2 linked regions of the Homo sapiens genome follow. The protein of the gene in region 2 purifies or fractionates together with the protein of the main gene of each other region. This does not show direct contact. Each region holds a gene or a part of one and is shown on either strand. Other genes may lie near its edges.

Evidence for each region.
Region 1: the proteins of MKNK1 (region 2) and NUP214 purify together in Homo sapiens (affinity purification with mass spectrometry; one large-scale study listed by BioGRID and IntAct). This does not show direct contact.

The regions. Positions count from the first base shown.
Region 1 is NC_000009.12:131,146,086-131,149,585, forward strand, and holds part of NUP214 (nuclear pore complex protein Nup214), read left to right. Parts: intron 1-43; coding exon 44-219; intron 220-1,401; coding exon of another isoform or gene 1,402-1,404; coding exon 1,405-1,499; intron 1,500-3,500. UniProt on the Homo sapiens protein: Part of the nuclear pore complex. Has a critical role in nucleocytoplasmic transport.
Region 2 is NC_000001.11:46,566,269-46,569,768, reverse strand, and holds part of MKNK1 (MAP kinase-interacting serine/threonine-protein kinase 1), read left to right. Parts: exon of another isoform or gene 1-1,270; coding exon 1,271-1,326; intron 1,327-1,471; exon of another isoform or gene 1,472-1,563; intron 1,564-3,500. UniProt on the Homo sapiens protein: May play a role in the response to environmental stress and cytokines. Appears to regulate translation by phosphorylating EIF4E, thus increasing the affinity of this protein for the 7-methylguanosine-containing mRNA cap.

The DNA.
Region 1 (3,500 bases), on a different chromosome or scaffold from region 2:
TTCTAGCAGGCTCTTCTGAGGCCTTCAGGCTGCCATTTTTCAGGTTTACTGCTGCAGCTACCTCTACTCCTGTTAGTAGCTCCCAGAGCGCACCCCCGATGTCGCCATTCTCTTCTGCCTCCAAGCCAGCTGCTTCTGGACCACTCAGCCACCCCACACCTCTCTCAGCACCACCTAGTTCCGTGCCATTGAAGTCCTCAGTCTTGCCCTCACCATCAGGTATGATTTTAAGCAGACAACTTTAGACCTCAGCCCTGCCTTCTCAGATTAACGGTTTTAAGTGTTAAGAGTCGTAGCTAACATAGTTGGACAAGGTTATTTTTTCTTGCTTCCTGTATCATACATTAATGATTAATGTGCTGTGATTTTCATACTCTGAATTGGGAGATTTGCTCTTGCTTAAATGCTGCCACTCTTCTCTCTGACACTTCTTATGGAGCTAAGTGTATTTAATGAGTCAAAAATGCCTTGCTCTTGGGCATTTATTTTCATATGGAGCCTGCCCTCCATGAAGAGCAGTTACATAACAGTTCTTTAAGAAGCACAGGCACAAGAGTTGTTTGGCGGGGTGCGGTGGCTCACGCCTATAAACCCAGCACTTTGGGAGGCCAAGGCAGGTGGATCACCGGAGGTTAGGAGTTCGAGACCAGCCTGGCCAACATGGCAAAACCCCATCTCTACTAAAAATACAAAAATTAGCCAGGTGTGGTGGTGGGTGCCTGTAATCCCAGCTACTCAGGAGGCTGAGGCGGGAGAATCACTTGAACCTAGGAGGCAGAGATTGCAGGGAGTCGAGATCACGCCACTGCTCTCCAGCCTGGCGACAGAGCGAGACTCTGTCTCAAAAAAAAAAAAAAGTACAGAGGAGAGAGTACCTGCAGTGATTATATTCATATTTTCACAGTCAGTCATACTGTAAACAGGAAGTTTTGTTTTGTTTTTTGAGACCCTCTCACTCTCTCACCCAAGCACATCACTGCAGCCTCTACCTCCTGGGCTCAAGCGATCTTCCCACCTTAGCCTCCTGAGTAGCTGGGACTACAGGCATGTACCACCACCGTCGGCTAATTTTTAAATTTTTTTGTAGAGACAAAGTCTTGCCATGTTGCTCAGGCTGGTCTCAAACTCCTGGGCTCAAGCAATCCTCCTGCCTCAGCCTCCCAAAAGGCTAGGATTACAGGTTTGAGCCACCATACCTGGCTCCTAAAATTTTAATATATTTTTTTCATTATCTTAGAACAGAGGCTAGCACAACTGGTGGTCATCACTCTTTAAAATAAATCATGAAAGTGGGCCAGGGGCAATGTGTAACTTAATTTCTTAGATTTGGAGAAAGGACATTTGTGATAGGAGAAATAAAGGTAATAAATGCCATCTATTTTAACTGACTTCTTTTTCAAGCAGGACGATCTGCTCAGGGCAGTTCAAGCCCAGTGCCCTCAATGGTACAGAAATCACCCAGGATAACCCCTCCAGCGGCAAAGCCAGGCTCTCCCCAGGTATGTTTAAATTCAGCTTGCAATGTTTGTGTTTATTAATTTACTGCCCCAAGCATACCTATGAATAAAATGAGTTTTCATGTTTTATAATTCAGACCTTGGACATAGTAATTGGGACTATGTGATAGTAAATACCAAAGTGCGAGGTTTGAATACTTGTATACTCGTAAAAGCCATTTAGCTATTTTAATTTTTTATTCATGTATAATACAAATAGAAAAAAGTACACATGATACATGTACAGCTCAGTGAATTGTCAACAACTGAACATACCTTGGTAACTAGCATCCAGATCAAGAAACAGAATTTTACGAGAACCTGGCTGGGCACAGTGGGTCATGCCTGTAATCCCAGCACTTTGGGAGGCCAAGGCGGGCGGATCACCTGAGGCCAGTAGTTCGAGACTAGCCTGGTCGACATGGTGAAACCCCGTCTCTACTAAAAACGCAAAAATTAGCCGGGCGTGGTGGCACGTACTTGTAGTCCCAGCTCCTGAGGAGGCTGAGGCATGAGAATCACTTGAACCCGGGAGGCGGAGGCCAGAACCCCAGAGTTCTTTTTCACCTGTCCCCTTCTAGTCACTACTCTTGCCAAAGAGTAGCTGATTTGATTTCCAACAGCATAGATGAGGTTAGCCTGCCTGTACCTCCTATCAAGTGGATTTGTACAGTATGTATTCTTGTATCTGGCTGCTTTGTTCAACATTATGTTTGTGAGATTTATCCATGTCGTTGTATGGAATTTATTGTGTGATTATATTACAACTATTTGTTCCACTCTGATGGGCGCTTGAGTAGTTTCCAGGTTTAAGCCATTGTATGTAGCACTGCTATGACCGTTCCAGTTGACATCTTCAATGAACACATATGCAAGTTTCTCTTGGGTGTATCCCTATGAGTGAGATTGCTGGGTCATAGAATCTGCATGTATTCCTCATTAGTAGATTCCCACCAAGAGTGTATGAGACTTCTGGCTGCTCCACATACTTGCCACTCTTGGTATTTTTCATCTTTTGTTGTATGGTTTTGTGGTTTTAATTTGTATTTCTCTAATGATTAGCAAAATTAAGCTTTTTAAAAGATGATTATTGGCCATTTGAATATTTTCTTTTATGTTGTGTCTGTTCATGTCTTTATTCTGTTTTTCTGTTGGATTGTCTGGCTTTTTCCTTCTGATTTTTAAGAGTGAGTTCCTTGAATACACACACACACGCACACACATACAGTGCAAATATGTTCTCACTGTGAATTGTCTATTCATTGTCTTTTTTGTTTCTTTGATGAATACACATTCTTCATTTTAATATAATTAAGTATATCAGTTTTTTCTTTTATGATTAATGCTTTTCATGTTTTAGAAATAATTTTCTATTTCAAGGTCAAAAAGATGTTTTTCTAAAAGCTTTATTATTTTATCTTTCATATTTAGATTTGTAGTCCATCATCTCAGTTTATTTTTATGGTATAATGTAAAGAGAATTGTATGTCAGTTTCCCACGTGATTACTTGAGTGCCCTGAGAATAAGCGTTATGTCTTTTCCTTTCTGTGTCCCTCTAACCAACCCTTGTACCCTAACACACACCTGTACTAGGTACATAGTAAGTGCCCAGGTCACAGTTCACGGTGTGGCATGATGCATGACATACAGTGTTTGTCAAATAAATGTTTGCTGTTAATGAATGCTGATGCAGTCTAAGACCTCTCTAGTGTTAATCGTTGTAAGTATCAAATAGTCTAAAGGGCATTTCAAATTATAGTATCTTTAAAGCAGAACTCTTGATTTCTGTCTCCCCTAGAGGCTAGTCCTTTTCCAATGGGTAAGTAGCACTAACAAACCAGATGTTTGCACAAGCCCCAAGCCCCGAAGCATCCTAGATCCCTCTCTTTAACAGTACCTGTCCCCAGTCCAGGCTGGCGGGAGGTCTTGTCAGCTCCACCCTCTGCTGTGTCACATGTCATAAGCCCACAGCTCTGTCCCCCTGCTAGCATCCTGTGTCAAGC
Region 2 (3,500 bases):
GAGCAGTGCTACTCAATTTGTGCAGCCTGGACTGAGTTGCTCTGGGTTCTCGTTCAATTAGGTGACTGATGAAGTTACTGAGCTTGCTGGAGCTCAGGTTTTTCTTCTTTAGTGAAGTGCCTCCCGTGGCCTGGGCCAGGCTTTTGCCTTCTAGTCGGGAATCGGAGGACTGCTGAAAAAGTTGATCACCGACGGAGTTTTAGTGAAGCAGATTTTGCTTTTCCCATCACCCCGAGAATCCGCTGCCGCTTTCCAATACTTCCAACTGTAGCTCTGACTCTTGCTCAGCCTTCCAGCCCTGTCTCTGTGCTGCATGTGCTGTGGAAGGAAAGACAAAAGGGAGGTTTCTGTGTCCTCCACCAAAACACCATGACCCAGAGTTAGTTCTTTGTCCCTTTCTTTGGTTAGAAGAGGGCTCTCCCCGAGGTGCCTTCTTGGCCAGGTCAGCAGGTTAACCCCTCATGGGCTAAGCTGCTATCTCCAGTCGCCTTCAGGAGGCCTGGCCAAAGTGCAGAGGTTTTCTCTTAAAAACAGCAACCCTCAGTGGGCCTAGCGAGGTGGCTCACACCTGTAATCCCCATGCTTAGGGAGGCCAAGGGAGGAGGATTGCTTAAGGCCAGGATTTCAAGAACAGCCTGGCTATAGCGAGACTCCATCTCTATTTTAAAAAACAAAAATAACAGCATCCTGGTGCCAAAGCGGTCTTTGCTCTGCTGCTGGCAGGGCTGCCTTAGACATGCAAAGCAGGTGAGAAGGGAATAGGTCACTTTGGGAGATTTGGTAACTAACACTTGCTCCTCTGAACATTCAGACAGTCGCACTGAAGGAATTTTTTTTTTTAAATCGGCCACACAAGAAGAAATGAGGTAGAGCAGTTAAGCCCCCTGAGATGCTCTTAAACAAGGCACTAATTATTTCTGCATTGCTGTTCCAAGCATTGCCGTTTGCAGAGCTCTCTGCTCTGCTCTGCATTAGGCCTTCTTCTTGGTGGTCACTGTGGTACTGAGGGGTAGGCTGGCTGGGATTCATTTAGCCCTTCTTATCCCTGCCAGACTTCTAAAGCCTCCTCTTCAAAAGAACCCGCAGAATCAACTGTGCTTTTGGTTTGTGTCGCTGGTTACTTCTGCCTCCTGCAGCTCGTTGATTTTTTAATGTACCATAATTGGGAATTAATCTGCGAACTACAGCATTTGGAAAAAATTAATTGTGTGTGGAATGTTTGATAATTATCTGCATATGTTAACCATTTTTTTGCTCTTTGTCATGTCAGGCATTGCTCATCGTGATCTGAAACCAGAAAATATATTGTGTGAATCTCCAGAAAAGGTACTTTGGGCCTGATTTGGAATGTTATAGTTTATACTTACCGAGGAAGCCACCCTTGCTTTCAGGATGGATTGTTAGCAGTTCCGTTGGCCTCAGACACCAACTTGAACTGATCGTCTTGGACATGTGAGAATGTTACACTTACTGTGTGATGTTTCTGCCCATCCTCGTCCTTTCTTCGCTCTTGATCATCAGTGTGATTGATGTAAGCCTGAGAGTTTGGAAAATATATGAGACCTGCACAAAATTAATATTTTCTAGTCCAATGCATCTATCTTTATATCAGTTGATGGAAGTCGTAAATACTTTTTTTTTTTTTTTGAGACGGGGTCTCACTTTGCCACCCAAGCTGGAATGCAGTGGCATGATCACAGCTCACTGCAGCCTCGACTTCCCAGGCTCAAGTGGTTCTCCCACCTCAGCCCCCCAAGTAGCTGAGACAACAGGCATGTGCCACCACACCTGGCTAATTTTTGTATTTTTAGTAGAGACAGGGGTTTCACCATGTTAGCCAGGCTGGTCTCGAACTCCTGAGCTCAAGCAGTCCACCTGCCTTGGCTTTCCAAAGTACTGGGATTGCAAACGTGAGCCACCATGCCCAGCCAAACAACTTAATCTTATGTGAAGCAGATCTCTTTAAGTAAACGGAAGTGTATGAATTTGACAAATTCTGTGTTTATTAGGAGAGATTTAGGCACTGGTGGTGTTGGGGCCCACGTTCACAGCTCTGCGTGTATATACATGTGTGTATTCAAGAGCATATATATTGTGGTCTGGATGAAGCCGCGGCTCATAAATAAGGGGTGGCCTTGAATGAATGAGTCAGTCTGCTACTCACAACTCTTTTATGGGGAATAATAATGGATTCGCTCAAATAAGATCTTGTGACTTCTGTCACTGATTCTGTCGTAGACCTTTATAATTTATCATTATTATGATGATTACTACTAATAATTACAGTGAACACTTCTTGAGTGCTTACATTGTGCCAGGCACTTATATTTATTTAGTGTTTATGAAATATCATGAGGTAGATACTATTATTACCTTCATTTTATGGACGAGGAAACTGAAACTCAAGTTAGGAAACATGTATAGCCAGTGAGCCATGATTGCACCACTGCACTCCAGCCTGGGCAGCAGAGATTCTGTCTCATAACAAGAACGTGAGGAAAGGCAAGGCGAAAGAGAGGAATAATTGGGACCAGGCAGTGGCTCACGCCTATAATCCCAACACTTCGGGAGGCTGAGGCAGGAGGATCCCTTGAGGCCAGGAGCTTAAGAACAGCCTGGGCAACAAAGCGAGACCCCATCTCCACAAAAAATTTAAAAATTAGCTGGTCACAGCGGTTGCATGCCTGTAGTCCCAGCTACTCAGGAGGCTGAGGTAGGAGAATTGCTTGAGCCTGGAGTTTGAGGCCAGCCTGGGTGATATAGTGAGACCCCTGTCTCTTAAGAAAAAGAGAGGTTAAGTTTCAAAGGACATTATCTATCAAGAAAGTGAAAAGACAATCTACAGAATGTGAGAAAATATTTGCAGATCATATATCTGGTCAAGGTTTAATATCCAAAATATATAAAGGATTCCTAAAACTCTACAACAAAAAGACAAACCAATTTAAAAATGGACACGGGACTTGAACAGACATTTCTCCAAATAAGGTACACAAATGTCCAACAAGTACATGAAAAGATGCTCAACATCCTTAGTCATTAGGGAAATGCAAGTCAAAACCACAATGAGATACCACCACATACTACTAGGTAGGCTGTAATTTAAAAAATGGAAAATAGTAAGTGTTGTTACGGTTATGGAGAAATCGTAACCCTCATACATTGCTGGTGAGATTATATAATGGTGCAGCTTCTGTGGAAAAGTTTGGCGGTTCCTCAAAGGCTAAACACAGAATTACCATATGACCCAGCAATTCCACTCCTAGGTATTACCCAAAACAATTGAAAACAGATACTTGTATAGCAGTATTCATTACAGCATTGTTCACAACAGCCAAAAAGGTAGAGACAACTCAAGTGGTCATCAGCAGCTGAACAGATAAACAAAATGTGGTACATACATTCAATGGAATACTAGTCAGCCATAAAATGGAATGAGGTTTTGATACATGCTGCAACATGAATGAACCTTGAAAACATTATGCTAAGTGAAATAAGCC